Homo sapiens: one gene and its partners. The protein of the gene in region 3 interacts with the protein of the main gene of each other region in a pairwise test. Each region holds a gene or a part of one and is shown on either strand. Other genes may lie near its edges.

What was found.
Region 1: the proteins of FHL5 (region 3) and HAPLN2 interact in binary tests that used the Homo sapiens proteins (3 or more experiments, as listed by UniProt).
Region 2: the proteins of FHL5 (region 3) and GARIN6 interact in binary tests that used the Homo sapiens proteins (3 or more experiments, as listed by UniProt).
Region 4: the proteins of FHL5 (region 3) and ZNF131 interact in binary tests that used the Homo sapiens proteins (3 or more experiments, as listed by UniProt).
Region 5: the proteins of FHL5 (region 3) and ZNF564 interact in binary tests that used the Homo sapiens proteins (3 or more experiments, as listed by UniProt).
Region 6: the proteins of FHL5 (region 3) and ZNF250 interact in binary tests that used the Homo sapiens proteins (3 or more experiments, as listed by UniProt).
Region 7: the proteins of FHL5 (region 3) and ZNF764 interact in binary tests that used the Homo sapiens proteins (3 or more experiments, as listed by UniProt).

What each region holds. Positions count from the first base shown.
Region 1 is NC_000001.11:156,618,096-156,622,214, reverse strand, and holds the start of HAPLN2 (hyaluronan and proteoglycan link protein 2 precursor), read right to left. Parts: upstream 2,801-4,119; 5' UTR 2,708-2,800; coding exon of another isoform or gene 2,680-2,707; intron 2,247-2,679; coding exon of another isoform or gene 2,057-2,246; intron 336-2,056; exon of another isoform or gene 287-335; intron 1-286. UniProt on the Homo sapiens protein: Mediates a firm binding of versican V2 to hyaluronic acid. May play a pivotal role in the formation of the hyaluronan-associated matrix in the central nervous system (CNS) which facilitates neuronal conduction and general structural stabilization.
Region 2 is NC_000012.12:99,646,477-99,650,552, reverse strand, and holds GARIN6 (Golgi-associated RAB2 interactor protein 6), read right to left. Parts: upstream 2,801-4,076; 5' UTR 2,379-2,800; coding exon 1,764-2,378; intron 1,266-1,763; coding exon 1,155-1,265; 3' UTR 439-1,154; downstream 1-438.
Region 3 is NC_000006.12:96,611,628-96,615,127, reverse strand, and holds part of FHL5 (four and a half LIM domains protein 5), read right to left. Parts: intron 1-3,500. UniProt on the Homo sapiens protein: May be involved in the regulation of spermatogenesis. Stimulates CREM transcriptional activity in a phosphorylation-independent manner.
Region 4 is NC_000005.10:43,137,914-43,141,413, reverse strand, and holds part of ZNF131 (zinc finger protein 131), read right to left. Parts: intron 2,250-3,500; coding exon 2,105-2,249; intron 1-2,104. UniProt on the Homo sapiens protein: Plays a role during development and organogenesis as well as in the function of the adult central nervous system. May be involved in transcriptional regulation as a repressor of ESR1/ER-alpha signaling.
Region 5 is NC_000019.10:12,524,873-12,527,482, reverse strand, and holds the end of ZNF564 (zinc finger protein 564), read left to right. Parts: coding exon 1-1,037; 3' UTR 1,038-2,110; downstream 2,111-2,610.
Region 6 is NC_000008.11:144,894,954-144,898,453, forward strand, and holds part of ZNF250 (zinc finger protein 250), read right to left. Parts: intron 280-3,500; exon of another isoform or gene 190-279; intron 1-189. UniProt on the Homo sapiens protein: May be involved in transcriptional regulation.
Region 7 is NC_000016.10:30,555,575-30,559,734, forward strand, and holds the start of ZNF764 (zinc finger protein 764), read right to left. Parts: upstream 2,801-4,160; 5' UTR 2,609-2,800; coding exon 2,413-2,608; intron 2,273-2,412; coding exon 2,159-2,272; intron 537-2,158; coding exon of another isoform or gene 534-536; coding exon 1-533. UniProt on the Homo sapiens protein: Zinc finger protein that functions as a cofactor for steroid hormone receptors, such as NR3C1/GR.

The DNA of each region.
Region 1 (4,119 bases), on a different chromosome or scaffold from region 3:
GCCTCCCAGAATGCTGGGATTACAAGCATGAGCCACCACACCCAGCCAGGACTTTTTTTGTCTTACAAGTACTTTTATTAGCACCTAAACTTAACAGTGTGAATTTGAACATAATATGTATCCACATATAGATACAGAAATTATGAAGTTAAAAAATATAAAATTATAAAGTTATTTTTAAAAACTACTTCAAATGCAATTATCTATTTCAGTACTGTAGTTATTCCCCCCTTTAAATTTGTTTTGTGTTTTTTTTTTCTAGATGGAGTCTCGCTCTGTTGCCCAGGCTGGAGCACAGTGGCACGATCTTGGATCACTGCAAGCTCCACCTCCCGGTAAAAAAAATTTTTTAATCAGATACAGGGTCTTACTAGGTTGCCCAATTCCTGGGCTCAAGCAATGCTCCCACTTCAGCCTCCCAAGTTTGAGCCACTGCACCCAGCTCCTCCTTTATTGTAACATTCTTTTTTTTTTTTTTTTTCTTTTTTCTGAGAGGGAGTTTCACTCTTGTTGCCCAGGCTGGAGTGCAATGGCACCATCTCAGCTCACTGCAACCTCCACCTCCCGGGTTCAAGCGATTCTCCTGAGTAGCTGGGACTACAGGCACCCACCACCACTCCGGGCTAATTTTTGTATTTGTAGTAGAAACAGGGTTTCACCATGTTGGCCAGGCTGGTCTTGAGAACTCCGGACCTCAGGTGATCCACGCTCCTTGGCCTCCCAAAATGCTGAGATTACAGGTGTGAGCCATCGCCTCCAGCACCTATTGTATCATTCTTATCCCTCTGACCTTAAAAAAAAAAATTGGACTGGGCCAGGCACAGTGGGTCACACCTGTAATCCCAACACTGGAAGGCTGAGGCGGGTGGATTACTTGAGATTAGGAGTTCAAGACCAGCCTGGCCATCATGGTGAAACCCTGTCTCTACTAAAAATACGAAATTCAGCTGGGCGTGGTGGCATGCACCTGTAATTCCAGCTACTCGGGAGGCTGAGGCAGGAGAATCGCTTGAAACCAGGAGGTGGAGGCTGCAGTGAGCCAAGATTGTGCCACTGCACTCCAGCCTAGGGGATAGAGCAAGACCTTGTCTCAAAAAAAAAAAAAAAAAAAATGAAGACTTCTTGACTTCACTGCATTCGTTTTCCAAATCTGGCTACTCTATTTCCTAATTGCATGACTATGCATAAGTTAATTATCATGCACAAGTTCCTTAACCTCTCTCTGCCTCAGTGTCCTCATCAGTGAAATGTGGGGAATAATAGCACACCTACCTCACTGAGTAGTTGTGAGGAATAAATAAATTGATATACGCAAAATGCTTGAAATAGTGTCTGGAATGTAATAAGTGCTGTCTATGTGTTAGCTGTTATCTCCAGTTCCCAGCATAGTTTCTGGTACATAGTAGGTGCTAAATAAGTGTGTATGGTTTAATGAACTTACATTAAGGATTCATGGGAAGATGGGATGGGGAATGGGGAGATGGAGGAAGCACCCTGAGAAGTTGCCAGAAATCTAAAGAATGGAGCTCCATCTTTCTGCAAATGAGGACCAAAGACCAGTTTGCAGTAGGAGAAACGGAGGTTATGCATAGAAAACTTCTCAGTGGTTAAAGGTGAAAGTATCTGGGATGCGAACATGAGCAAGAGAACCACTTCTTTATAGGAGAACTTGATAAGTAAGAATGATCGTGAGGACTGAGATTGACTGAGACCAACAATAATGATAGCTCAAATGAACACGTTTAAAATTGAATGTGCCTGACACTGCTCTAAGCACTTTACATGTATATTTTTATATTTACTCCTCCCAGCAATCCTGAGGCAGAAACAATTATAAATCCTACTGTACACATGCTGAAACCAAGGTGCACCTATTTTAGGAAATGAGGTCACACAGCTAGTAAGAGGAAGGGTTTGCTGGGATTTGAATACAGATCTGACAGTGAGGCTCAAGCGCTTAATCACTAATCTATATTTCTGCATTTCAAAACAGTGCACACACATGCTCTTCATACCTCTTACAGAAAATGAGAGTAGTCAGCAGCCCATTGCCTACCTGTTAGAAGCTGGTCTCTTCACAGAGACGGAGGGAGCAGTGCTTAGCAGCTTTTTGTCTTGCTTGAGGAAGAGGTTCTGGATGAAGGTTTGCCAGGCTCCTGGGAGTTCCAAGCACCTTAAAACCCTGGAACTTGAGCCCCTGTTCAACACAGTTGCTCCTTTTGCACCTTTGAGGAAAAGCTTCTGTCCTGTGCTCAAAGAAGAAGCCAAGGTGCCAAGAACGACCCCCACCCCCATCAGTCCACTAAGCCATGTTAAGAGACCTGTGTCCAGCCCTGTGACTATATCTGTGGAAATCACTATTCCGGGACCAGGGGAAGATGCTGGGGTTGGGATGAGGGCTGGGAACCCATGAAGGGGAGTGGAATAAAGGGAGCAACCCAGGAATGATGACCTGGAAGAGTGCAGAAAGTGAGGTGCTTCATTTTTTCTCGATGCCTTTGAACCAGAGAGGTGTAGATTGATCGGTGGATATGAAGGTGTTGGACTGATGGGGATGGGGATGAACTCTAAATGTGGCTCAAAGATCCATAACTGCCAAGCTCGAGCTGCCTCCCTTTCCATATGCGCCTCATCTAAGCAGCATCCCCATCTCCCCTCTCCCCACAACAGAGTACTCACCTCTGCCCTCTGGTGCCTGAGTGCGCATTGCCTTTGCAAACAGACTTTCAGGTGGGAACTATCCAGGACTTCCAGCTGCTTCAAGAAACCGGACCTCTTCTGTACAACCCCCTGTCTGTCTGTCTGTCTGTCCTTTCCTTCTCAGTCCCCACCCCATCGGAAGCACAATTTCCCATTGTCTCTGTCTTTTCCCCTATTGTTGAATAACAGGGCCCCTTTCTTTATTCTGTGGGTAATGGCAATGAAATGTCAACAGCTGGGGATGTGGGATGCAGGACCGGCTGGCACATACCACCGGAAAAGGGCCTGGGTGGGGGGCGGGCTCAGAACAGGAATTGACATCCCCAAGAAGAAGAGAATAGGGTGAGGGGCAGAGAACGGATGGTGAAAAGGTTGAAATGGAATCTCTCTCAACACTCCAAATTACAGGGCTCTAAAGAGATTTTGTCTGAGGCCAGGGGAAAGGCTGGGCTCCATGAGGGCAGAGGGAGTGGCTAGCATTGCAATAGGAGAGATGGAGATTAGACAGCAAGGAGGATTTTTCTGTCCCTGGGGAGGAACATGAGAATTTCTGAGGACAGAAGGACTTTGGAAACCTCTCCAAAAGAGAAGTTATCTTATTGGTTCCCTAATATTCTACCTCTTCCCTCAGCACAAATAGATAACCTTTTTAAAGTACTCAGAAGGGGATCCTTAATCTTCCTGGATGGAAATTCACTTTCTCTCAAGTCTTTTTTTTTTTTTTTTTTTTTTTTTTGAGACGGAGTCTCGCACTGTCGCTCAGGCTGGAGTGCGGTGGCACGATCTTGGCTCACTGCAAGCTCCGACTCCCGGGTTCATGCCATTCTTCTGCCTCAGCCTCCCAAGTAGCTGGGACTACAGGCACCCACCACCACACCCGGCTAATTTTTTGTATTTTAAGTAGAGACGGGGTTTCCCCGTGTTAACCAGGATGGTCTCGATCTCCTGACCTGGTGATCCGCCTGCCTCGGCCTCCCAAAGTGCTGGGATTACAGGCGTGAGCCACCGTGCCCGGCCTTTTTAAAATTTTTTTTTTAAGACAAGGCCTCTATCTGTTGCCCAAGTAGGAGTGCAGTGGCCCAATCATAGCTCACTGCAGCCTCGAACACCTGGGCTCAAGAGATCTTCCCCCTTAGCCTCGAAATTATCTAGGACTACAGGCGCGCACCACCACACCCGTCTAATTAACTTTTTTTTTTTTTTTTTTTTGAGACAGAGTCTGGCTCTGTCACCCAGGCTGGAGTGCAGTGGCGCAGTCTCGGCTCACTGCTACCTCTGCTCTGCCTCCCGGGTTCAAGCCATCCTCCTCTTTCCTCAGCCTTCAGAGCATCTGGGACTACAGACGTGCGCCACCACGCCAAGATAATTTTTGTATTTTTTTGTAGAGATGAGGTTTCATCATGTTGCCCAGGCTGGTCT
Region 2 (4,076 bases), on a different chromosome or scaffold from region 3:
TGCAAAGCAGTTAATTAAGATTTAAGAAAGGAAATCAAGAATGAAGAGACTGGGAAAATTAAGCCCTTTCTGGAAAGTATGATTAAACTCAGAATTTGTTTCTCAACACTACCATTTACACAGTGCCTACTATGTTCCAGATATTATACATGTATGGTCTCAAGGTGACCATTTAAAGAAACAATCTACTGAAACTCACAGTTAATGTGTGGCAATGCTGTGATTCAAACCTGGAGAGAGAGAGGAGAGAGAGAGAGAGTCTGTGTGTGTGTATTCCTGGGTTCTCATTTTATATTTTGGAAAACAGTTTTAGAATAATTCTCCTAATGTAGGATCATATCTGAGAGTAATCTTCAACATTTTATTCTGTCATCTATTAATTTATTTAAAAAATATAAAGTTAAGGGAAAGTTAAAGATAGTTTTCAGAGCCTGATCATAAATTGCCATTAGTTTTATTGCTACCCTTCCTGTCAATAGAGCATATGTTATTAGAGCAGATAATTTGAGTTGATGGATTTTATTATGGTGAATCACATTGTTCCCCTCCACAGTCTTAGGTGAGATGTCCACCTCTGCACCATGTGTAGTACTGGGCTTTGAGGTTATTACTGCAGAGTCAATCCAGCTAGGTAGAGACCCTCTGGCTTCCATCCCATTCACGCATGTGGCCTCATCCTGCAGAGTTGAGATAACTGACTCCCAATGCTGAGTAGCAGAGAGTCAGCCTTTGAGTAGCAGAGAGATACTGTCAATGCAACAGCCTTCTCAGTATCTCTCTGCTCCTGTAGCCACCACATTCATACTGCTCTCTAGGGAGAGGCCAGTAGCACTTACTGATATGCTTGAAGTACCCTTTTAGGACAAGAATGTGCATGCAGCCCTTGCTATAACAAGATTAAGACATGGAAGCACCCACTAATAGCCATGCTGGCTATACTTCCTCCTGGACCTCTGAAGGCTGCTTTTGCCAGTGCTGTGTTTCTCTCCTGAGTCTGCAGACTTGGTTGCAGCCACATCCATGGTACCTGTGGTGGTGCTTACTGTCATCACTACTGCTGTTGCTACCCTGCCCCTTCATCAGGCACTATAGGTTTTATGACTGCAGGGGTGTGTGAACTCTTGAACGTAGTATATGTGGGAGGTATGTTGGATTCATATCTCTATTGTATAATCACAATAGGTGGACCCAAACATTTCAGCATTCATGTGAAGTCTACTGATTCTGAATTGCTCCTTCTCTTCACAAAACTTCATGGCATATCCCTAGGGAGAGAACAAATAAGCAAAGACAGTGAGACCAGCAAGATCTCCTTTCTCTTCCTATAGGTAAACAACAAAAAGAAATTATTGCACAAGTACACAAACATGTTGTGTTGCCACCAATGTATATAAGTGGCAATTGCAGGGAGACACGTCCTACAACATATCAGCCTGCCTAGGTCATAGTATGTGTTTCAGAATAGACTGGTCAGGATGCTTTGGACAGCATTACAACATTGATATAAAATGAACAGCTGTGGATATAAAATGAAGAGTTGCTGACAGCTAAGAAATCTCTGAAATTCAGGCTTGGAGAACCCTGGAGAAGCACTAGGAACCTCCTCAATGTACCATGGCCTCCAAATGGAAGCTCATTTGGCCTTCAGACCTTCCAAATGCAATGCATTTCCCAGGTGAGCTGCAGCACCAAAGGCTTTACAGGACCTGTACCTGCTCTCCCCCAAAGCATCCAGGCCCCATCTAGTCTCTGCATAGACTCACCACTGGGCTCCTCTGCACTTCCTCCAACACAGATGAGTCCAATGTGTTCCCAGCTAGGATAGCCCTGGTATCACTGTAAGCCTCCACTGGTGGTCTCAGGATGTAAACAAGGTTTTCCCAGTGAACAAAAAGGTCTTCACTTGCATCCGATGGAGGACACAGCTGAAGATAAAAAGAGCGGCCCGTGGCAAGCTTCAGGTGGAGCTGTTTTTTTACGCTGTTGTGGATGGTTATTTTCACAAACATCAAGGGAAGCAGCCTGGTTAGTTCTAAGATCTCTGCAGGCGGACTTTCTCTTTTCTGGGTGGCAGGACCACACCTGGCATTGTCACAGACAGCAGCTGGTCGGGCCAGCAGCATGACATCAGGTAGTGTGAGGCAGGGGCTGGTGCGAACGATGCCCATTGTTACCATTCGGGCACGGTTGTGCACGTCAATCACTTCTCCTCTTTTGCTGATCTGGATAAAGTCGCTCTCAAACATGGGTGCATACCTGAATATAGTATACTCGCCTTTGTACAGTTGCCGCTGCAGCTTCCCCATGGAGGTGTTAAACATGCCCATTGCGGGGCTGCTTTGGGCCGTGTAATACGGTAGCATACAGCAGTCCTCCATGTCTTCCTTTAAATCAAGACAGTTCCCAGCAGCTGCTCCACACCTTCCTTAACATGCTTTAGCGGGCATCCTGTTTCCTTGGCTACTCTGGCAGGTGGGCCAGCAGTCGTGTTCTGCAGGCTTTCTTTTTTGTCCCCAAGTGACTGAGAACAGGGAGGGTGGGGTATTGATTACCAACCGCTCAATGCCAGAGACAGTCAGTCCCCTGGATCCAGACTGTGCCCTGCTTAGTGCATGGAGCTGTCAGGAGCACAGGTGTTGGGGCCCTCGTGGATGTCCGGGCACACAGGTGTCAGTGCTCATTCGGGAGGGACCTCCATTTGAGCCTGATATTCCACTTCACAACAGCCTTTGCTCTTTGATTCCACAACCTTAACTGGCAATCCCACTGCTCTTCTTCCCAACCTGAACCATCCACTGCTGCTAAACCACCCCGCAGGACCACTTTTATCCTCCCCTACCCATTGTGACCTGCCCCATCACACACCCCTTTGTCTCTGTCACCCAGTAGTCCCTGCCTCAGAGCAGGGGCACCGCCCTCTCCACCCCACCCTCAGCCCCACCGCCCTCCACAGCTCAGCAGACCACTACCCCGCCACCAACCTACCATCTAGGGACCTTAATGCATTCTGGCAAATTGCTTTCAAAAGGGTTAGAGGTAAATTTTCTGTGCAAGGCAAGAGTTTAATATACATTCTCTGTATACTCATTTATCCAGCTCCTCTAGTTGTAGACATTTATTTTAAAGAGAGAATTGGATAAATTGGTAAACAGATTGGTACAGGATGTTTATCAATGTTTGTTGTAGAGTAAAAAATTATAAACAGCATTAGTGTCTTACAATAGGGGATTGCTTAAATAAATTATGGAGCTTCTGTGACGGGACAGTCTGCAGCCCTAAAAATGATTACGTAGTTTTCCTATTTATTGACATGAAAAGATATCCCTGACCTTTTTTTTTCTTAAAGAATAAGAGAAAAACTGATTTCAAACTCATAGTATAGGTGAGATTCAATTTATGTAAGACCACGTGTATGTGTTTGTGGATATGGAATTATGTTCAGTGAAATGTTTAAAGTGCTTAGGTATAATTTTCATTTTCTTTTTAACTTCTATTTTTATTAGGAAATTTATTTCTGTTACCAGGGGAAATAACTATTTTATTGGCAATGTATTTTTTTTTTTCTGTTTCTATAGCCATGATAAATTTTATGTTTTGACTCACCCTCAAACTGTTGATGCAATTTTTGAGTTTTACCTAGACATTCATACCCTGGCTATGGAATGAAAAGAGCCTTAAACATCACATTTATGCTCTATTCTTTACCATCAGATTGTATTGAGAAAAAAAAAAGCTGTAAAGAATTTTGCTAGGTATTGCAAATATTTTCAATTCAATAAGATTATAATATCTTTATTGAAATGACAGTACACATGATAACCCATGTGAACACAAACACACACACACACACAGAGCCATAGCCATAGTTGAGTCTTTTTTTTTTTTTTTTTTTTTTTTTTTGAGATGGAGTCTCACTCTGTCACCCGGGCTGGAATCAGTGGCGTGATCTTGGCTCACTGCAACCTCCGCCTCCTGGGTTCAAGTGATTCTCCTGCATCAGCTTTCCTAGTAGCTGGGACTACAGGCGTGTGCCACCACGCCCGGCTAATTTGTATTTTTAGTAGAGATGGGGTTTC
Region 3 (3,500 bases):
TTTAGTTTTCTTCTTTCCCCTCATTTTTCTGTGCTTAGTTGTACTTAGAATATGTCCTGGGGTTATACGGTTTGGGACACTATTTCTAGAAAGCATAACCAAATAGAGGATTTTGTCTAATCATTCAGCCATCCTAACGTGATGGCCTTATTACCTTGCTCAGAGCCAGCTTCAGCTTTTGTTGAATCTGGCCAATGAAGCCACGTTATCACGTGATTGGTTTCTAAGAGCTTTGTCAGCCTCCTCCACTTTAACTTGGGCCTCACTTGAACCATACTGTTTCTTTAAAAAGTAGTCGAATTTGAATCTTCGGTGAGGGTCTGATCTCTGTCTCCTTAATGTGATTCCAGGGTATAGTTCAAGAAATTGATTTTGAGAAGTTACATTAAAGGAGAAAATGTTAGGGTTTGGGAAGAGGTTGAGATGCCCTAGGCTTGGGTCTTTATTTATTTCATGTTTTCTCCCAGTAATCTTAGTGCTATTATTTGCTTATCATCCATGGAGTGAGGCTAAAAGAGTTATGTAATTCATATGTAATTTCCAAATACTCCATTTGGAATGGTGAAGTGAAAGGGTGAATAGCATTCTATTTCAGATACATTCTTCTTAAATAGGATAATGAACTTTTGTTTCCATCCTAACAAACTTATTTGATGTCTTCATATATAATTTAGTAGTTCATACAGAAAATTGCATCAAATTTCTCTACTTTCCTTGATTAAATTTATAGCTTGCTTATCTATGATGCTATCAACATTACTTCCTAATAAATGTAAATTAATTATGTACTACTTAATTCCCTTAATGTTATTCAAAACATTAATAAGCTGACTGCAAGAGTAATGTTCTGTATATACATAAATTATGCTGTTCATAAAACTAATTATTACATGTCTAGCATTTTGATGCTCATGAGTTTTTCTTAATTTTATTAGTAAGCCTTGTACAAGTGGCAAATATAAAAGCAATTCTTCCGGAATTTTACAAATAAGAAAAAGTAGAAGCATCTGGCAACTTTAAGAAAGGGCTGAACCAACATGTGAGATGTATGTAAACTGTTCCAAAAGGAATATGTTTACTCCCTTAGGTCATGAGGGTTGTTTGCAGTAAGAAAGCCATTCATGAAGCAGGTCTTTGACACCTGTGTTATCTGGTTTCATAGGTTTCTGACAAGTCAGTAGAATAAGAGCTGGCATTTGTTGAGTGCTTGACTGTGTGCCAATTACTATTCTAAGTCCTTTATGTGTGTTACCGTATACAGCCCTCACCTTACCTTCATGGGGTCAGATATTAGCATCAGCCCCACTTTGCAGACAAAAACTGAGAAGTGAGAAGTTTAACCGCTTGCCCCAGGTCACCCAGCTAGTAAGCAGCAGATCTAAGATTTAAGCACAGGCCAGGGCCATCTGTCTTTAGAGTCTCTGCTTTTAACCTCATGAAACTAAGTTTGAGTTTATCTTTGGTAAAGAATATGATCAGGAACATCAGCATCACTCTCTGAAGAAGCCACAACATTTGAAATTCCTTTTCCTTGAAATAAACAGAGATGGAAGAAAGCCAACCTGCTCAACTGCTTGTTTTATAAATAAGGCAAATGAAGGCCCCCCACCCCTGAGGTGAGTTAGTCACCCATGGTGACACAGCAGTGGGGGCAGGGAGGACCAAGTCTTTTGCTCCTCAGTCCAGAGCACCTTTCACTGCATCAAGCAGCTTCATTTATCCCTGATAGTTTAAGAGGTTAATCCTATCTCAAAGGAGGAGAAAATATGGTAGCTATATCTGGAGTTTGTTCAAATGAAGCAGTTCAATGTGATGGGTTTTAAAAATTACACTTGGTGATTTATGGGTAGATTTCTCAGAGCTTTTTAAAAAAATAATTGATTAATCTTAATTGACAAATAAAAATTGTACATATATTATATAACATGTTTTTGTATATGTATGCATTGTGGAATGGCTAAATCAAGGCAATTAACATATCTATTACCTTATCATATGCTTTTTTGTGTGTGTGGTGAGAACATTTAAAAATCTATTCTCTTAGCAATTTTCAAGTATATAATACATAGTTGTTAACTATAGTCACTATGTTGTACAATAGATCTTGAAATTATTTCCCCTGTTTAACTGAAATTGTGTATCCTTTGACCAAGAATACCTAGCTTTTAAAGTGACATAATAATCAGATTAATGCCAATTTTCCGAAGACGTGTGACAATATCAGAATTCCCAATGGTACATCAGTTCAAATAGCTCAATTTTAAAGAAGCAGTACTTCAGGGCCTATAGATATTTAACAATTAGATGAAGAAATAGTAAAGTGAGTTGTAAGTTTTTGCAGGCATTTCAGCCTCTGGTGTCTCAATCACAAAGTTAAAAAAAAGATTAAGATAGTTATTAGACATTTCCTGTGGACTGATGAGTCTAAATTAAATATATAATATTTAGATTACTTTTGGGTAAAATTTAGATTACTTTTGGGTCAGATTATTTACTTTTGATCATCCTCATGTTTTTGTGCAGAACAACGTTGTTTTTCCATCTCAACTTTAAAAAGCTGGGCCCAGTGATTGATCTGGAACAATCTATGAAAAAAATCACTTAGGCACATGAATCTGTGATATACCAGAATTGAAACTCAAGTTCAGGGCTTGTGTAGGCTTTTTGCAGATCAGTATTAGCCATCTGGATCTCCAGAGAATTTTGAAACTTATTTTGAGTTGTTAATTTCCTTATTTTCTCATTGAAGTCCCCTTTTTTTTTCTGTCCCAATTCAAGATAAGTGTTGTTATAAAATAAATGGACTGTGATTGCAGATTTTACTTGGGAGATTCTGGAGCTCCAGGTATTGTTGGATATCTGAAAGTCCCATTTTCTAACTAAAATCAGTGGAGATCTCTTGGCTATAGGAATTGTCAAATTTGTAGAAGGCAGGAGAGCAGGGTAATTAAAAGCATGGACCCTGGAGCCGAGTGGTGTGGGATTGCTAAGGCAAGTTCTTGCAAGGGCCAGGGAGGTGATCTAGCTGAGTGATGCAGACAGGGTGCAAGGGACAGAGAGGGCATGCCCCATGCAATTGGACAGCCACGAGTTCCATATGATGGTGACCCTGCTGGGGAATGTGGAGGCAGTCTGCTCACCCAATGGCAGGCTCTTCCTCTACTTTTAGCTGCAGAGATGGATTTTACATTAGTTATTTCCAAACATGTTCAGGCCAAACATCAACAGCCTGCTTGCCAGATGTAGCCCGTGAGCCAGTGTGAGATCCTGACACAGATGGTGCTCCATATAGACAAATAAGACCATGCTGTTTTTTTCTGGTGACACCCTCCCTCCCTTTGCAAGTCAGTGAAAGCCTGCCAAGGTGGGGTTTGCTGTGAAACTTTTTCTTTTGGTTGGAAAGTGCATGAAGACTCAACTTTTATTTTGCCACATATTTGAAGATGAAGAAGGAGGAAAGGGATAAAATGATCTTTAATTCTATGGTATATGAACAACTA
Region 4 (3,500 bases), on a different chromosome or scaffold from region 3:
GAACATTCTTTTGGAAGGCTCTCATTCAATATTTAACCACAATCTGACATCGCCCCATCCATATATATTTCCTTTAATCTTTTTGAGAAGAGATGGCCTGATCAGGTTTATATCCTCAGAATGCATCTCTATTTTGACATCCATGCTCAGGTCTCTCTGCAAGAGTACTGATCTGGTTTTAATTAGCATGTATCCATCTATCTATTCACAAATGTTTCCTGTACACCTGCTATATGCCAGGTGCTAAGCATCAAAGAATATATATACGTATCAAGCTCTTGTCAGAAAGGTTTAATCTTGAACTGTCAAACTAAGAGATGATATTTATGGACGAGTACAGTTCAGTATTCTTAGAGTTATCTAAATTTTTATCTCTTAAAAAAAAACTTTTATTCGGCCAGTCACAGTGGCTCACACCTGTAATCCCAGCACTTTGGGAGGCTGAGACAGGCGGATCACTTAAGGTTGGGAGTTTGAGACCAGCCTGGGCAACATGGCGAAATCCCCACCTCTACTAAAAATACGAAAATTTGCTGGGCATGGTGGCAGGCACCTGTAATCCCAGCTACTCAGGAGGCTGAGACAGGGAGAATTGCTTGAACCCAGGAGATGGAGGTTGCAGTGAGCCGAGATTGTGCCACTGCACTCCAGTCTGGGAGACAGAGCAAGACTCCATCTCAAAAAAATAAAATAAAATAAAATTCCAGTAGAGTCCTCAGAGAAATAAATTTTATCTTTTAACTAAACCACAACAGTGAGTTAAGATTAAATCATTGTGCCGCTATGTGAAACTGATTTTACCAAACTGTTTTGGCATCAGGCCAATGATCTGTATTGAGAAACATAAAAAACAGTACCAGGAGATAATAGTTCATACTTAGAGTACTCAGAGTCATTTAGCCAGACACCATGCTAAACACTTTGCATGCATTAATTCATTCAACCCTCACAATCAAATCCCATGTAGAAAGTACCGTTATTACTCTCATTTGACAGAGGAGGACACAGCTGACAGGAGGGTTAAGTAACTTAATTAAGGCCACACAGTGGTAGAAGCAGGATGTTAACCCAGGGAAACTGACTCCTGAGCTCTTATTCTTAGTAACTATGTTACACTGCCATTATTCATCAAGTAAGGATGTTGAGGTCTTTGTTCATTATATCCTTTCACGTTTTCTCTTTTTTAAAAAAACAGGGTCTCACTTTGTTCCCCCTAGCTGGTATGCAGTCAGTGGCGTGATCACAGCTCGCTGCAGCCACAACCTTGCCAGGCTCAGGTGATCCTCCCCTCCCACCTCAGCTCCTGAGTAGCTGGGACCACAGGCATGCACTACCATGCCCAGCTAATTTTTGTATTTTTTGTAGAGACAGGGTTTCACCATGTTGCCCAGGCTGTTTGTGAACTCCTGGGCATAAGCTATCCATCCACCTCAGCCTTCCAAAGTGCTGGGATTACAGGCGTAATCCACTGGGCCTGGCCTAATGTTTTCTTAATACTTCTCAGGAGAAATTTTAATACTAGGAATAGGAATGGCTCCTCAGCAATTGATTTGTTCTCATCTTCTAACAAGGAATAATGTAACTGAATAGTCTTTTTCTTTGAACTAGGTGCACTTAGAGCTAGATTTAGCACATCTACTATAGACTTATGGTATGCATTTTTGGCTATCATACTTCTAACTTGAAATGATTATCTCCTTATTAAACCAATTTATTTATTTCCATCTATTTCCTTATTTTTAAACAGTATTATGTTAATCTTTGTAAGCCAAACCCTTTGTAGGATAAGGCTTGGTATAAACAATAACTTGAATCCAACAAAACAGTTTATAAGGATCCAGATCCTTAAAAAGCTGTCTAGATTTATTTTATTACATACCAAAGATGCTACTTTAATATTAGCAGTTTTAACACATGATCAGAAAATCAAAGTCAAGTGAAAGAACAATCAGTATCCAGAAAATTTTTTAATAGATCCTTAAATATTCTTAATTCTTCTGAAGAACTCTGTTCTTCATGGCATGACACATACTGTAAGTTCTTCACTAACAGAATGAACATGACTGAATATGACTATCTGAACCCCATTAAAGAAATTAAGTACCTGACTTCAAGGGCTTTGATAGCTTCTAGCATTTGTAGAAACTCTGCTGCTTTCCATACATCATTGGCTTCTTCTTCTCCTTGTATCATTAATTTTGCTGTATATGTGAACTCAATTAAATGGCGAAAGGCCATTTTACTAACACCTGTAAAGAAGATGTACATTAGAGCATGTAATCATATTGACTCAAATCTTACAATGTTTAGTAAAGAAAGAAAAGCCCAGGGCTTGGAGCTTGTTGAGTATTTATTTTTGAAAACTATTTTCTGGAAAAATTCTCATTAGCAATACAATAATATTACAGCCAAATTTCAGCACTACCTAGCTGGAAAATCTTAAACTACTTTAAATTTCCTGAGGCTCTTGGAGAACAGTAAGATTCTATCACTCAAATATATGAATTGGCTATTACATGTCAGACATGCTACATTTCTTGCCAGGGAGATTACAGCTGTGCCAACTCAGCTCCAAAATCTTCAATAGCTTTTCACAACTTAGCAAACAAAATTTAGTACCTCTCTGACTTTATTTCAAGGCCCTTCACATTATTTTCCTATTTACCTTTCCAAATTTTAAACGACATCACACACACACTATATACTATTTCTCAAACAAACCCTGCACTTTCTAATAGCTGACTTGCCTTTATTTATTTATTTTGAGATGGAGTTTCACTCTTGTTGCCCAGGCTGGAGTGCAATACAGTGATCTTGGCTCACAACCTCTGCCTCCCAGATTCAAGAGATTCTCCTGTCTCAACCTCCCGAGCTGCTGGGATTACAGGCATGTACCACCACGCCTGGCTAATTTTGAATTTTTAGTAGAGATGGGGTTTCCCCATGTTGGTCAGGCTGGTCTCAAACTCCCGACCTCAAGTGATCTGCCCGATCAGCCTCCCAAAGTGCTGGGATTACAGGCGTGAGCCACCGCACCCAGCCTGACTTGCCTTTATTAACACCCTCCTAGTTGGATGCTTAATCATTTCATCTCTGGTTATACTCATCCTACCACCCACCCCTTAAAGGTCCAACTCTAATGTCACATGTTCAATGAAACCTTTTAACATTTATTGTAATAAGAACATGAGATCTACCCACTTAACACATTTTTAAGTGTACACTATTGTTGACTCTAGGTACAATGTTGTACAGACCTCCAGTTTATTCATCTTGCGCAATTGAAACTTTATGCCCACTGATTAGTAACTGCCCATTTCCTCCTCCCTCCCAGCCCCTAGCAACCCGTATTCCACTCTTTCAATCTATTTGAGATAGCTCATATGAGTGGAAGTGACTATTTTAGATTCCTCATATAAATAGAAATATGCAGTTTATGTCTGTGACTGGCTTACTTCACTTAGCATAATGTCCTCAAGGTTCATCCATGTGGTTGCATA
Region 5 (2,610 bases), on a different chromosome or scaffold from region 3:
CAAGTTTATTTCAGATACATGAAAGAACTCACACTGGAGAGAAACCCTATGAATGTCAGGAATGTGCAAAAGCTTTCATTTCTCTTCCAAGTTTTCAAAGACACATGATTAGGCACACTGGAGATGGACCTTATAAATGTCAGGAATGTGGAAAAGCCTTTGACCGCCCCAGTTTATTTCGAATACATGAAAGAACTCATACTGGAGAGAAACCCCATGAATGTAAACAGTGTGGGAAGGCCTTCATTTCTTTCACAAATTTTCAAAGTCATATGATTAGGCACACTGGGGATGGACCTTATAAATGTAAAGTATGTGGGAGAGCCTTTATTTTTCCCAGTTATGTTCGAAAGCATGAAAGAACTCATACTGGGGAGAAACCCTATGAATGTAATAAATGTGGTAAAACCTTCAGTTCTTCCAGTAATGTTCGAACACATGAAAGGACTCACACTGGAGAGAAGCCCTATGAATGTAAGGAATGCGGGAAAGCCTTCATTTCTCTCCCAAGTGTCCGAAGACACATGATAAAGCACACTGGAGATGGACCTTATAAATGTCAGGTATGTGGTAGAGCCTTTGACTGTCCCAGTTCATTTCAAATACACGAAAGAACTCACACTGGAGAGAAACCCTATGAATGTCAGGTATGTGGGAAAGCCTTCATTTCTCTTAAAAGGATTAGAAAACATATGATACTGCACACTGGAGATGGACCTTATAAATGTCAGGTATGTGGTAAAGCCTTTGACTGTCCTAGTTCTGTCCGAACACATGAAAGAACTCATACTGGAGAAAAACCCTATGAATGTAAAGAATGTGGGAAAGCATTCAATTATGCCAGTTCCATTAGAATACATGAAAGAACTCATACCGGAGAAAAACCCTATGAATGTAAGCAATGTGGAAAAACGTTCAGTTATTCCAGTTCCTTTCAAAGACATGAAAGAGCTCATAATGGAGATAAACCTTACGTAAAGAATGTGGGAAAGCTTTCATTTATCACACAACCTTCGAATACCTGTGAAAATGAATAGTGGAGGACAGGTCTACAAGTATCTACATATCTAAAGAATATGGAAAGTCTTCAGTTTGCTTTCTGGGTTTCAGACTTGTTTGGGAGCTCACCCCTTTCTCCTGTTTCTCACTTTTGGAATAGGAATCTCTATCCTGTGCCTGTCTCATATTTTGGAAATACATGACTAGTTTGGTTTTCACCGGTTCGGAGCTGAAGAAGAATTTTGCCTCAGCATGAATTGAGTCTCATCCATATCTGAGTGATGTGATATTGAGATGACACTTTGGAGTTTGAGTTTAAACATTAGGCTTCATGCTGGAATTAACTGAGACTTTTGAGGCCTTTGGGATGAGATGAATATATTTTACATGTGATGACATGGATTTTGGGGGCCAGAGGTGTAATGTTTTGGCTGAGTGTATGCCACCTCAGATTCATATGTTGAAACCTTACCCCCGTGCCCCCCCTCTCCCCCACAATGTGATGGTATTTGGAGGCCCTGTCTCTGGTGGTTTTTAGGATTGGAGGACATCATGAAGATGGAGGCCTTGTAATTGGGATTAGTTTCCTGATAGGAATCCCTAGAGAGCTAGCTTTGCCCTTCACCATGAGAGGGTGCAGTGAGAAGATAGCTATCTTTGAACCGGGAAGCAGGCCCTTACCAGACATGGACTATGCCAGTGCCTTGATATTGGACTTCCCAGCCTCCCAAACCATGAGAAATAAATGTTTGTTGATTAATTAAGCTTTCCAATTTATGGTATTTTGTTTTAGCAACCCAAGCTAAGACACAATCCAATTTTAAAATGGAGGAAAGGACTTGAATAGACATTTCTCCAAAGAAGATACCCAGATGGCCAATAAGCACGTAACAATGCTCGACATCTTTAGTCATTAGGGAAATACAAATCAAACTCAAGACATACATAGCATCTCATTAGGATTAGTAGTATCAAAGATGGAAAACAAGAAATACTGTCAAGGATGTGGAATGTTGGAGAACATTGTGCACTATCACTGGGAATGTACAGTGGTATAAGCCTGCTGAAAACAGTATGGCAGATCCCCAGATTAAAATATAGAAATAACATATGATCAGCATTTCCATTTCTGGGAAAATAAAAAGATTGAAAGCAGGGCCGGGCGTGGTGGATCACGCTTGTAATCCCAGCACTTTGGGAGGCCGAAGCAGGCGGATCACAAGGTCAGGAGATTGAGACCATCCTGGCTAACATGATGAAACCCCGTCTCTACTAAAAAAAAATTAGCCGGGCGTGGTGGCAGGCGCCTGTAGTCCCAACTGCTCGGGAGGCTGAGGCAGGAGAATGGCATGAACCCGGGAGGCAGAGCTTGCAGTGAGCTGAGGTCGCGCCACTGCACTCCAGCCTGGGTGAGAGAGCAAGACTCCGTCTCAAAAAACAAAACAAAACAAAAAAGATTGAAAGCAAAGTCTCAAATAGGTTTTGTACACCTGTGTACATAGCATCATTCACAATAGGTAAACTCTGGAAACTACTCAGGTTTTCATCAACAGATGAATAAACAAAAGGAAGTTTATACATACAAGAGAATATTACTGAGTCTTACAAAGT
Region 6 (3,500 bases), on a different chromosome or scaffold from region 3:
CACACCCGGCCTGTTTGTTGAATAAATGAATGAAGAGGAATGAGCTCACACTTTATGCCATCTGTAATAGCCAAGTACGGAGTCAACACTTTAAACTGGCAGGCATGGGAAAGTGGAGTTTCTCATACTCTTAAGAAGGCGACCTAGCAGTATTTAGGCAAATCAGACTGGCCCTTGGATAGTGGGTACCTGATAAGAATGGATGTGGGTGAGGGTGCAGATTCAAGGATGTTGCTGAGGCAAATGCTACGTTGGTCCTTCCACATACAAGTTACACACCTGCTAAAGAGAAAGATGTATGTTGTGTCAGGTCACCAGATGGGTGAGTGAAAATGCAGCATGGGGCCAGCATGCAGGGGAAAATCTCATTTTGTAAACTATGACCCCGAGCCCATGAAGGGTATGTGTGTCACAAGGACCTGGGACTGGTTCACCTGCCTCACTTGGGCCAGCTGCATTGAGGCCCCACCTATAAATCCAGATGACACACTCCTCTGAAGGCCTGGAGATCATGTGGTTGGTGAGAGGAGAGCGCTAAGAACAGGCTTGGCTCAGAGGAGGATGCTGCTGGATAAGGTGTTATTATCTATTTGATTAACACACAGAGGAAATACTCCAAAGGACAATACCAGGCTGTCAACAAGTGTGTGGCAAGGAGAAGTGAAAGGGAAAGACTGCCACCTGGGGTGAGTCTTAGAAAAGCATCACACAAAATGCAGTATCAGGTCTCTATTGAAAGATGACCATCACATATTGCTAATTAAAAAAAAAATCGGCCAGGCGCAGTGGCTCATACCTGTAATCCCAGCACTTTGGGAGGCCGAGGCGGGCGGATCAAAAGGTCAGGAGTTCGAGACCAGCCTGGCCAACATAGTGAAACCCCGTCTCTACTAAAAATACAAAAAGTTAGTCAGGCATGGTGGCAGGCACCTGTAATCCCAGCTACTCAGGAGGCTGAGGCAAGAAAATAGCTTGAACCTGGGAGACAGAGGTTGCAGTGAGCCAAGATTGTGCCACTGCACTCCAGCCTGCATAACAGAGCAAGACTCTGTCTCAAAAAAAAAAAAAAAAAAAAAATCCTATCACAAAGTCTGATTGTATTCTGGTAATAAATGAACAAAAATGGCTGGGCATGGTGACTCACACCTATAATCCCAGTACTTTGGGAGGCCAAGGTGGGAGAATTGCTTGAGTTCAGGAGTTCAAGAACACCCTGGACAATATAGTGAGACCCCGTCTCTATAAAAAAATTTAAAAAATTAGCTGGTTTGTAGACCTAGGTACTCTGGAGGCTGAGATGGGAAGATTGCTTGAGCCCAGGAGGTCAAGGCTGCAGTAAGCTGTAACTGCACCACTACACTCCACCCTGGGCAACAGAATGAATCCCTGTCTCAAAATAAATAAATAAATAAATAAAAATTAAAAAAAAATATGAACAAAATACATTTTAAAAGTGGTATTAACTAGTTTAAATTTTTTCCTTACTTACACTATGGCAGATAAAGGTTTCAGTTTCCTGGAACGAGCCTGTAACAGGATACCAGGCCAGGCAAACACCATGGACCTCAACCTAAACCTTGCATACTCAAGACAGGAAAATGTAAGAGCTATCGGGGGTGCCAGAAACTGGCTTTTAACAACACACTCCATCCACACTTCACGGGATTCTGACGTCCAACTCCAAGCTTTGCTCCATGAGAACACAGTTCAGGCAGGGAAGGAGGATGATGTGGACAGTTTTAAAAAATTAAGACAGGCTAATGACGAGTCCTCTATAGATGCCAGGCTCCAGGGCCAGGGGCTGGGACAGGCTGGAGATCACCGCCACAGAATACTGGAAGTGGAGTTTGAGGAGCCCCCTCTTGAGGCCATGCCAACAGCTAACAAATGGGCAATATAAAGAACACCCACTCAGGGCACTGGCTGAGCAATGATCCCTCCCACCCACTGGTTACAAAGGTGGCAGCATAAGGAGCTAATTTTTCAAACTCAGGAATTTCAATCTTGAAAATTTCCCTAAGGAATAATCCAAAACAAAAACAATAGATCAACGTTATTAGCAGCAACTGGCTTTCCAGTTTTCTTTAGGTGATCAAAAGCCACATCGCAGTGAGACATTCCTATCACTCTTTTTGGAATTCCTGACTGTCTTGATGTGACAAAGCAGTGTGCCTGTCATTCCAGAGGACCCTGCACATGGTCACACACTGGGACAGGCACATTTGGAGTCTCCTGATCTGGGATGAGCTTCCAGGATCTCCTCCAGGGCCACTGCCTTCTCCTGCTCCTCATCATCCTCACTCCCTGGACTTTCTGCTAACAAGCACTGCTCCCTCTTCATCACCAAGGAGCCCCTACCCGCTAGGGTGAAAGCACTTTCAAGAGAGGCAGCTTCTGAGCCACTTGTGAGCACAAGGCGAAACACTGCTAAACTTGACCTAATCTAAACTAACCCTAACTAACCTAAACTAACCCTAACCTGCAACCTTTCCAGAATTAATGATCAGAAATATGTATCCAAATTGATAGCTTTCTGGTCGGGCACAGTGGCTCATGCCTGTAATCCCAGCACTTTGGGAGGCCAAGGTGGGTGGATCACCTGAGGTCAGGTGCTGAGACCAGCTCGGTCGGGGAGACCCTAACCCAGCGGCGCTAGAGGAATTAAAGACACACACACAGAAATATAGAGGTGTGAAGTGGGAAATCAGGGGTCTCACAGCCTTCAGAGCTGAGAGCCCTGAACAGAGATTTACCCACGTATTTATTAACAGCAAGCCAGTCATTAGCATTGTTTCTATAGATATTAATTTAACTAAAAGTATCCCTTATGGGAAACGAAGGGATGGGCCGAATTAAAGGAATAGGTTGGGCTAGTTAACTGTAGCAGGAGCATGTCCTTAAGGCACAGATCGCTCATGCTATTGTTTGTGGCTTAAGAATGCCTTTAAGGGGTTTTCCACCCTGGGCCGGCCAGGTGTTCCTTGCCCTCATTCCGGTAAACCCACAACCACAACCTTCCAGCGTGGGCATTATGGCCATCATGAACATTTCACGGTGCTACAGAGATTTTGTTTATGGCCGGTTTTGGGGCCAGTTTATAGCCAGATTTTGGGGGGGCCTGATCCCAACAGTCAGGAGTTCAAGACCAGCCTGGGTGACATGGTGAAACCCCGTCTCTTCTAAAAATACAAAAATTAGCTGGGTGTGGTGGCACGTGCCTGTAATTCCAGCTCCTCCCAAGGCTGAGGCATGAGAATTGCTTGAACCTGGGAGGTGGAGTTTGCAGTGAGCCAAGATCGCGCCATTGCACTCCAGCCTGGGCAACAGAGTGAGACTCCATCTCAAAAGAAAAAAAGCAAATAAACAAACAAACAAAACAAAACAAAACAAAACAAAACAAAAAAACAACCAAACTGATAGCTTTCTTATATACCAGTAACACCTAATCAGAAAATATGAATGGAAAAAAATCTATTCAACAAATAGCAACAAGAAACAAG
Region 7 (4,160 bases), on a different chromosome or scaffold from region 3:
GCTGTGCACGCGCCGGTGCTGGTAGAGGGCAGAGCTCTGGCTGAAGCGGCGGCCACAGTCGGCGCAGCCATAGGGTTTCTCGCCGGTGTGGACGCGCAGGTGCGAAGTCAGCGCCGAGCGCTGCGTGAAGGCCCGGCCACACTCCAGACAGCGGTGGGGCCGCTCCCCACGATGGATGGCCCGGTGTTTGCTCAGGGAGGAAGCGTGGCCGAAGCCCTTGCCGCAGTCAGTGCAGTGGAAGGGCTTCTCGCCAGTGTGACTGTAGACGTGCTCCACCAGTGTGGAGCGCCAGGCAAAGCTCTTCCCGCACACGTAGCAGCCATGACGCTGGTCAGCTCGGGGGACAGGGGGGTGGGCACAGAGGGAGGGGCGTCCCCGGTGCGGTGCCTTGGACAGCTGCTCCCAACCATAAGGGGGCCCGGCCGAGGGGGCTTGGGGAGACTTCAGCCCAGGAGACCCGGCGGCCACAGGGTCGGGCTTCTCCAGGGCTCCCGTCCCTTCCCTTTGTCTTTCCTTTTTCTTGTTTCTGGAATCTGCTGAGAGATAAAGAGGGGAGAGTTCAGGCTCGGCTCATCCTGGTCCTTGAATCCCACAGCCCGCGTGGACAGGGACAGGCCTGCTGGATCCCCGGCTGCTCCTGGGAGATGGAGGAGTGACACCTGTTCCTCGGCTGCAGAGCCAGACAGAGCCGGGAGGGAGAGAACAGCCCATTCCGCCTCGGGGCTGGGGAAATGTCACGGTGGGGGAAGGGCAGAGATGACATGAACATCTGGGCCTGATCCAGAAGGAGGAACGGACACCTGAGGATGTTCCAGGCAGCAGGAACAGCACCAAGAAAGGCAGAACCAGGAGGGCATGGCCAAGTTCAGTGGGGCTGGATACTCTGCAAAGGCTGAGGGCAAGAAATGAAAGAAAAAAAGGGGGGCGGACGGGGAGAAAGGAACCAGCCTGCAGGTGAACGGCAGGGGTGGGTCCTGAGGTGGAGGTAGAGTCAACAGAGTTTAAGAGACTGGGCGTGGGGGCTCAAGGCGGTAATCCCAGCGCTTTGGGAGGTAGAGAAGGAGGATCAGCCTAGGATTTCAGGACCAGCCTGGGCAACACACCGAGAGCCAAGACCCCCTCTATAAAATATATATATTACATAACAATTTAAAACAATTAGGCCAGACGCAGTGGGTCACTTTGGAAGGCCGAAGCAGGCGAATCGCTTAGCTCCAGGAGTTAAAGACCAGCCTGGGCGACATAGTGAAACCCTGTCTCTACTAAAAATACAAAAAATTGGCTGGGCGCGGTGGCTCACGCCTGTAATCCCAGCACTTTGGGAGGCCGAGGCGGGCAGATCACAAAGTCAGAAGTTCGAGACCAGCCTGGCTAACATGGTGAAACCCCATCTCTACTAAAAACACAAAAACAAAATTAGCCGGGCGTGGTGGCGGGCGCCTGTAGTCCCAGCTACTGGGGAGGCTGAGGCGGGAGAATGGCGTCAACCAGGGAGGCGGAGCTTGCACTGAGCCGAGATGGCGCCACTGCACTCCAGCCTGCGCGACAGAGGAAGACTCTGTCTCAAAAAAAAAAAAAAAAATTAAGCAGGCTTGGTGGCGGGCGCCTGTAATCCCAGCTACTTGGGAGGTTGATACAGGAGAATTACTTGAACCTGGGAGTGGGAGGTTGCAGTGAACTGAGATGGCACCACTGCACTCCAGCCTGGGCAACGGAGTAAAACTCTGTCTAAAAAAAAAAATTACCCAGGCTTCGTGGCGAGCACCTGTACAGTCTTAGCTACTCTGGAGGCCCAGGTGGAAGGACTGCTTAAGCCCGGGAGTTCCAGGCTACAGTGAGCTATGATGCCGCCACTGCACTCAGCCTAGACAACAAAGCGAGACCCTGTCTCTAAAACAAAAACACCAAAAAAAGCCCCCAGAGTGTAGTGACCACGCAGAGGTGAGGACTCAGAGGCGGGTATGGCAGGGCCAGAGCCCCCATCACAGCTCCTTTCTAGGCTGCATCTGGGAGCCACGCAGGGGCTCAGCCTCGTCGTCGCAGTTGAGAAGGCAGTTCAGAGAGGAAACTGCTAAGCAGGTAGCTGGAGGTGGCAGAGGGTACCGGGATGGGACAGGAACAGAGAAGTCCCCATGGGACTGAGCACCCGATACTCCACCTGGGTCCGTTTGTGTCTGACATTTCGCCACCTCCGGATCCTGGGCAGCCGGACCCCACAGTTCGGCCTCCTCCTCCACCCAGGAGATGAGAGCTGGCTTGTTGCCTCCGATTCCTAGGGAAGAAGAACGCAAACCCCACGCTGCGGGGAGGCCACCTGCCCGGCCCCGGGGCCCCCAACTTCACGCGCAGCTCCCAGAGGCGCGGCAGGGCCTGTGGGGGCGCAGGGCTCAGGCGAGCAGGTGGGGCTCTCACCGAGAGCGCTCAGGTGGCCGTAGGTCTCCCGCATCACGTCCCGGTACAGGGCCCTCTGCGCTGGCCGCAAGCAGCCCCACTCCTCCCGGCAGAAGTACACGGCCACGTCCGCGAAGCTCACAGCCCCCGGCTCCCTCCACTCGGGTCCGGCCCCGTTTGGGTCCCGGGGAGGGAGCGGGGCCAGAGGCGGCGCCATGGTAACTGTCAACCCCGACGACGGATCGGCTGCCTCCCCTGGCCTGGCCTGGGCCTGCGGAACCTCCTGCGCCCGAGAAAGCCTCCCCGGCCCGGGCCCAAGGGAAGGAGGGAGGTTACTAGGGCCCCCGAGGGCGCACTAGAGGGCGTGGAAACTAACGGTGCCGATGGCAGCGGGTGTATAATCAGAAATGGAATATGCCCTCATAAAAAATGGCGGCGGCGCGGGTACTCGACCTTTGCCCCTACGCAGTCGTGCCCAAGACAACGCCCCCGGTATCTCCAGTCCGCGTTCTCTCCGTACCCTCATCCAAAATGGCCGCGGTGACTAATACAGAGGCCGGCCTTGAAAACTAGCCGCGCATGTTTAGTCCCCGGCCCGGCGAGGCGGTGCAGCAGAGAGCTCCGCCCCGGCCCGGCGAGGCGGTGCAGCAGAGAGCTCCGCCCCGGTTTGCACGAACAAAAGAGCGCCTCGCGGGAGTGAGCTGGCCTCCCGGCCTTACTGAACTCAGGCATTAGTTTTCGTTTGTGGACCGTTTTATAATCGGGCTCCAGCTCATCACTCTCTCGTTTTGTCCTTGTTATCTCAGAAACAGGGCAACAGCAGTCTCTTCCCAATGTTGAGTGTAAAAAAACCAATGGAGTGGGCGTGGCGCAGTGGCTCACGCTTGTAATCAGCAGTTTGGGAGGCCGAGGCCAGCGGAACAACTGAGGTCAGAAGTTCGAGACCAGCCTCACCAACATGGTGAAACCCCGTCTCCACTAAAAACACACAAAAAAACAGCCAGGTGTGGTGGCGTGCACCTGTAATCCCAGCTACTGGGGAGGCTGAGGCAGGAGTATCGCTTGAACGCGCGAGGCGGAGTTTGCAGTGAGCCGAGATTGCCTCACCGCACTCCAGCCTGGGCGACAGAGCGAAACTCTGTCTCAAAAATAAAAAAGAAAGAAAGAAAGAAAAAGGAGTGGATACAGGAGAACCTCCTCCATCGTAGGCTTGTTGGGGCCTGAAATTCTGGAAGTTTCTAGATGGCGGAGGCAGTGGGGAGAGTAGGGTAAGGTTGAGAAAGTCAGAGGGTCCTCTCTTCTAGGAGCTTCTCCCATGTGCTGCTCAGGACGCCTCCCAATTGCCAGTCTCCCTGTAGCTGCAGCCGGGCTCTCACCTCCCCTCACATCCTGCCCCTGGACAGATGGCCCAAGGCTCCTCTACTCAAATCCAACTCATCCCTTTCTTGCCCCAATCTGCTTCCCCTAGGGTCTTTATCTAGTAAATGTCACCAACTCTCCCCCAGACCTCTCTCTCACTTTCTGATGGTCTATTCTGTGCTCCACGTGACTTCATACATGTCCTGTTGTAGCAGGACAAGCCACAGACAAAACCCCTCAGACACCGAGTTGAAGGAAGGGTTTTATTCGGCTGGGAGCATCGGCAAGACTCACATCTCAAAAACCGACTCCCCGAGTGAGCAATCCCTGTCCCTTTTAAGGGCTCACAACTCTAAGGGGGTCCCCGTGAGAGGGTCGTGATCCATTGAACAAGCAGGGGATATGTGACT